Regions from separate parts of the Homo sapiens genome. Here region 2 is linked to region 1. The links come from fine-mapping of genetic effects on gene expression. Tissue or cell type: transverse colon. Region 1 holds a variant in brackets; the other region holds the start of a gene. All regions are shown on one strand. Distances are from middle to middle.

Evidence for each region.
Region 2: it holds the start of LRRK2, and the variant in region 1 is fine-mapped to the expression of LRRK2 in transverse colon (GTEx, PIP 0.95).

What each region holds. Positions count from the first base shown.
Region 1 is chr12:40,249,446-40,252,464 of GRCh38, forward strand. LRRK2 (leucine rich repeat kinase 2) reads left to right here. Exons shown (of 51, transcript NM_198578.4): 8 at 381-500; 9 at 1,787-1,929; 10 at 2,020-2,099. Among named protein-coding and RNA genes, the nearest start is that of LRRK2, 26 kb to the left of the region's middle. The variant C/T (reference allele first, on the strand shown) is at 1,256.
Region 2 is chr12:40,223,685-40,226,493 of GRCh38, forward strand. LRRK2 (leucine rich repeat kinase 2) reads left to right here and starts at 1,313. Exons shown (of 51, transcript NM_198578.4): 1 at 1,313-1,598; 2 at 1,871-1,956. The coding sequence starts at 1,448. It overlaps LINC01779 (long intergenic non-protein coding RNA 1779), which reads right to left and starts at 1,219. Exons shown (of 1, transcript NR_186584.1): 1 at 1-1,219. It overlaps LRRK2-DT (LRRK2 divergent transcript), which reads right to left and starts at 138. Exons shown (of 9, transcript NR_186757.1): 1 at 1-138. RefSeq lists a silencer at 1,079-1,438 and an enhancer at 2,637-2,726.

The DNA.
Region 1 (3,019 bases):
CTTCCAAAAGATGGATTTAAGAGTTTCAACTTTAAAAGACAGAAAAATTAAGTTATTTTACACAATGAATATTGTCGTGCCGTGTGTCACAGACATGACATGAGAGGGAATCAGAGAACATACAGTTAATACAACGCAAACTAGTATCATTACTTTTGCTCAATCACTTCCATTGTCTAAGTAAGATAATTAAAGGACAGCATAAAATAAAATTTCAAAACTTTACTCAATCATATTAAGCTATTTTAATTAAAGTAAATGTTTTAATGCCATTGAATATTCATCACCATTCAAAATTATTGATGTAAATAGTGTTATATGTTAAAGGTAATTTAACTTCCATGGATGAGAATTCAGCTAATGTTTCACTTAACTTTTAGGTAATTTTTTCAATATCCTGGTATTAAACGAAGTCCATGAGTTTGTGGTGAAAGCTGTGCAGCAGTACCCAGAGAATGCAGCATTGCAGATCTCAGCGCTCAGCTGTTTGGCCCTCCTCAGTAAGTAACTTCACTAAAAAGGGGATTCTTACAGAGGCATTTGACATCAAATATGAACATTGTAACAAGAGAATCATATGTACAGATGGAAGCATTCAATGCCTTTTCTGTCCTGTGTAGCTCATTTTCCAGTAGAGGATACTTTCAAGGAAACTAACAGTTGTGACAAATATACACATCTCAATGTAGAGTTTTGCTTTACATCATTCTTGATTTAGCTTTGTCATTAAGCAGCTAATCTGTTTTAAAAAAATTTTTATTTGTGCCTGGGCATGGTGGCTCACGCCTGTAATCTCAGAACTTTGGGAGGCCGAGGCGGGTGGATCACAAGGTCAGGAGTTCGAGACCAGCCTGGCCAACATGGTGAAACCCCATCTCTACTAAAAATATAAAAATTAGTCTGGCATGGTGGCGGGCACCTATAATCCCAGCTGCTCGGGAGGCCGAGGCAGGAGTATCGCTTGGAACTGGAGGGTAGGAGTTGAAGTGAGCTGAGATTGTGCCACTGCACTCCAGCCTGGGCAACAAGAATGAAACTCCATCTCAAAAAAAATAATTTATTTGTGTTTTAAGTTCTGGTGTACACGTGCAGGATGTGCAGGTTTTTCACATAGGTAGACGTGTGCCATGGTGGTTTGCTATACCTATTAACCCATCACCTAGGTATTAAGCCCAGCATGCATTAGCTATTTTTCCTAATGCTCTCCCTTCTCCAGTCCCATCCCCTAACAGGCCCCAGTGTGTATTGTCCCTCT[C/T]CCTGTGTTCATGTGTTCTCATTGTTCAGCTCCCATTTATAAGTGAGAACACGCAGTGTGTGGTTTTCTCTTCATGTGTTAGTTATCTGAGGATAATGGTTTCCAGCTCCATCCGTGTCCCTGCAAAGGACATGAGATAATTCCTTTTTATGGCTGCATAGTATTCCATGGTATATATGTACCACATTTTCTTTATCTAGTCTATCATTGATGGGCATTTGGGTTGATTCCATGTCTTTGCTCTTGTGAATAGTGCTGTGATGAACTAATCTTTTCAAATAATCCTCCTCTCGTCTATTAGGTTTTTTTTTTTTTTGGTACCTTCTTCCTCATTTTATTATTTATCTGGATAGGATGGTAGCATTATGAGACGTATAATATATTAAAAATTATCTTTATAATTGACCAAGGCTTCTCCTAAAGCACACCTCATTCTGTTGGTAATATTTCAAAATATGGACTTAGAGTTGGTCAAACTGTTAAGTAGATAATATATATAATGTTTTTATATATTTTTCAATTTTTTTCAAGCTGAGACTATTTTCTTAAATCAAGATTTAGAGGAAAAGAATGAGAATCAAGAGAATGATGATGAGGGGGAAGAAGATAAATTGTTTTGGCTGGAAGCCTGTTACAAAGCATTAACGTGGCATAGAAAGAACAAGCACGTGCAGGTAGGACTCTCATAAATATTAGAGTTATTCAAAATTATGTTTTCCAGTCATTTATATTTTGACAGATTTCTTTTTTCTCCCCTAATCCAGGAGGCCGCATGCTGGGCACTAAATAATCTCCTTATGTACCAAAACAGTTTACATGAGAAGATTGGAGATGAAGATGGCCAGTTAGTAGTTTTGATTTTATATGATAGAAAATTTCAGTTATATTTTAAATCAATACCTATAAAATACCTTAACCGTAACTTTTATTGTTAGAAATATTTTTGATATAGGCATTTAGTTTTAGATGTTGCTGCAAAATAGTAGTAGGTATGTAGTATTTTGATCTCATCACCTTCAGGAGTTAGAAAAGGTAGAATGAGAGTTATTATTGAGAGATTTGGAATCAAGGGTCATTTGGTAATTCATGAATCATGGAGAAAGAATCTTTCTATTTTCTGGCTGATCGTTTTAAAATGCCATATTAATTCATCTTGGGTGATAGAAATTGCAGAGCCATCTGTGATCTTTTCTTCTATGGTGACTAGCCAGCAGGTTGTCAATATCAGAAATTAGATTTGGTTAGAGAGCTTCCTATGATGAGTTCCCAACTGATGTGACAGAGTTGACCTGTCTTCTTTCGAGAGGGTTATTTGAAGCTGTCATCTCTGGATAACTCTTTCAATAGGAGTGCCATTCAAACATCATAAGACCGGCACTCTCTCCCAAAGATACAAGCTGTAGCAAGGAGTTTTGTGCATATCAGGTTTGTTTCATATCCGTGAGCCTTTGTGTTTTATGGCAACTGATTGATTATACTTGTGCTATTTGCAATGGGTATCCTCTGGGTTTTAAATAGTGAATGACTTATTTTGGAAACAAATAGTAGTATTCTATGTCTGAAATCTTGACCGTCTATTTGTTTAATTATCTATTGCTGATAAGAAGGGAATTAATAACACAGATGCTACTTAATTAAATATTTTCATTTTGACAAGAAACAGTAATTCTTTTGAAAACTATGCTAAATTGGCATCTTAATAATCTCATGTTGAGCAAGGCTTTTGGAGATTAGGGTAAGGGAGATTCATGTCGCAGTTTATAA
Region 2 (2,809 bases), 26 kb before region 1:
AAGTCCTGGCTCTCAACTTCCCACCTGTGTGACTCCAGCAAAGCTCTTCACTTCTCAATTCCAAATCTCAATTTCCTCACTAGTGAAAGAAGGATACATAGTAGTAGTTGTATCCATTTCAGAATTGTCATCAGGATTGAAGTAACAGATGTGAAAACAAAACTAAAATTGTGAAGTAGTAACTTCCAGTCCAATCCTCTTCTTTGTAAGTGATCTTGAGGACAGACACATCACCTGAAGGATAGATCATCTTTGCCTAGCCTTGTCTACAATGTTCTTGCTAGGTTTCTTTTCCTAAAAACACATTACTTAGGTACTTAACAGAACAAACAAACAAACAATCAAAAGACAAAACCAAAAAACTTTGGGGTTATAGACACCCATACTCATAAGTATTTCTGAATACCAAGAGAAGAGTATTTAGGTTTGCTTCTCTCAACTTTTCACCTTTCATTTCATGTACCCTGTCCTTTGTCTCAGCTCTAATAGCTCTGAGAGCTGATTACTTTTCGGGTGTCCCAAGTATCAGGATCCTGCCTAGTGCAACTCAAATTTCCAAAAGTTAATTTAGTGGCCTTTTGGTGACCAGAGCTTCAGATAACTCACAGGGAAACAATGTTTATTTCCTCTCCCACTAACAGTCACAAAAAATCATAAAAAAGAGTAGCGGGGGCAGTTTTGATGGCTAACCCCTCTTTCCATCCTTTGGGGGAAAATTGCTCATCTCCCTATAGGTGGAACTCTAAAGACAATGTATTCCTAAAAGGGGCCATCTGGGCGGTGTCCTCTTTTCCCAGCGCCCTGATTTCTATTCTTAGATCTGGAGATAGGCGGCTTTCATTTTTCCTGCTCCCAGTTCCCAGACCTTCCGTGGGGCCGCAGGATCCCCGGCTGGCGGGTCGCGGAGGGTGGCCGGCCGGGCTGCGCACTGCGCGCCTCCGCTGCGGGGCTCCGGGCCTGTGGACTCAGCGGAGTCCGCTGAGTCAGTTTCTTCCCGCGCGACTCCCGGCCGCGCCGCCGCTGCGGTGGAATCTGGTCCCAGGAGGCGGCGTCCGCCCGGGGTCCGGTCTAGGCGTGCGTGGGGGCCACGGTCACGGTCATCCCAGCCAGGCCCGGCTCCAGCAGCCCCACGGCCGCCGCCAGAGTTCTGCGCGGCCCGTCGCCTCGGCGGAGCCTCTGGCAGGCCCCTGAGCTCGTTTTTGGGGCCTGAGTGGGGGAGGAGGAAGCCGAGCAGGAGGGCTCCGGAGAGGGAGGGCAACGCGGGGCGGGGAGCTGCCTCCTTCCTCATAAACAGGCGGGCGTGGGCGCCGATGGGGCCCGCGGGGAGCGCTGGCTGCGGGCGGTGAGCTGAGCTCGCCCCCGGGGAGCTGTGGCCGGCGCCCCTGCCGGTTCCCTGAGCAGCGGACGTTCATGCTGGGAGGGCGGCGGGTTGGAAGCAGGTGCCACCATGGCTAGTGGCAGCTGTCAGGGGTGCGAAGAGGACGAGGAAACTCTGAAGAAGTTGATAGTCAGGCTGAACAATGTCCAGGAAGGAAAACAGATAGAAACGCTGGTCCAAATCCTGGAGGATCTGCTGGTGTTCACGTACTCCGAGCGCGGTAATCACTTGAAAATAAACTGTGCTTTTATTTTTGCAAACTTTCTCCCCCTCCTTACATTTGCAAATTTTGTCCTCCTCCCCTTGACCCTGCTCAAACCCGGACTCTTAAGGAGCCGCAAACTCCCATATCCTTTCCTTAGGGCAGAAAGCAGCTGAGAATTTCAGGAAGGTCTTCACCTTTTTGACTTTTCTCCCCGTTTCAGACTAAAAAGGAGAGGGGGTGCTGTGGATTGTGACTTTGCTTCTTTTCCCCACCCACTTGTTTTCCAGCCTCCAAGTTATTTCAAGGCAAAAATATCCATGTGCCTCTGTTGATCGTCTTGGACTCCTATATGAGAGTCGCGAGTGTGCAGCAGGTAAAGGCATTGTTTTCACTTCAACTCATTCTCCCTTCTGTTTGGAAGGAGACGTTTTACTGGCAATGTTAATATAGCCGAGAGTTCTTGGTTATTCCCAAAATTTGGCTTGAGGAACCTCTGACTGTGATTTTAAGATGGGAATATTGTTAAATCATTACGCAATGTAAACGGGATGAAGAGCCCCAGTATGTGTTCCCTGAGTGTCTTTAAGAAGTAACTTTATAAAACCAACAGTATGGATGGTGGTAGAAGGAGGATAAAAATGGGTTCGGTTTTAGTCTCGTTATTGGCAAGATGAATTCATTAGTGTTTAGACTTGACTATTCCAAGTATCTTCCCAATACAGAGCATGTCCTAGATGAGAAGATTATGAATAGTTTGGAAAAGGGGAATAATTAATAGTGATAAAATGCAACTTTGTCACTAGCAAACTCTTGTAGAGTTCAGCACTTTTTAAAATTCAAAGATTTCTAGCCTTTAGTTGTAGTATACCTTGTAGTATCTAAAGAAAGTGATGTCTTATGAGACCCTCATAGTTTGCAACTGTTGTCATATAAAATGCATGTAGAAGTGAAACTTTTACAATCTGTACCATAGGAAACCCAGAAATTTGCTATGTATCTTGGATTTTTTTTTAAAGGGGGCCTTAAAAATGGTAATTAAGAATGATTTACAGTCAAAACAAAATTATAGGCCAAGGTGATAACTTCCTTCGGAGCACTTAGAGATTTGGGGAACTGAAATCAGTTTTGTCATCTGCATGTTAACTCATGCAGAGAAAGAGAATTGGACTTTGAACTCCTTGGAGGTGCAGTCAGAAAGCCAATGTTTCTTAATGGTTGAGAGGCTT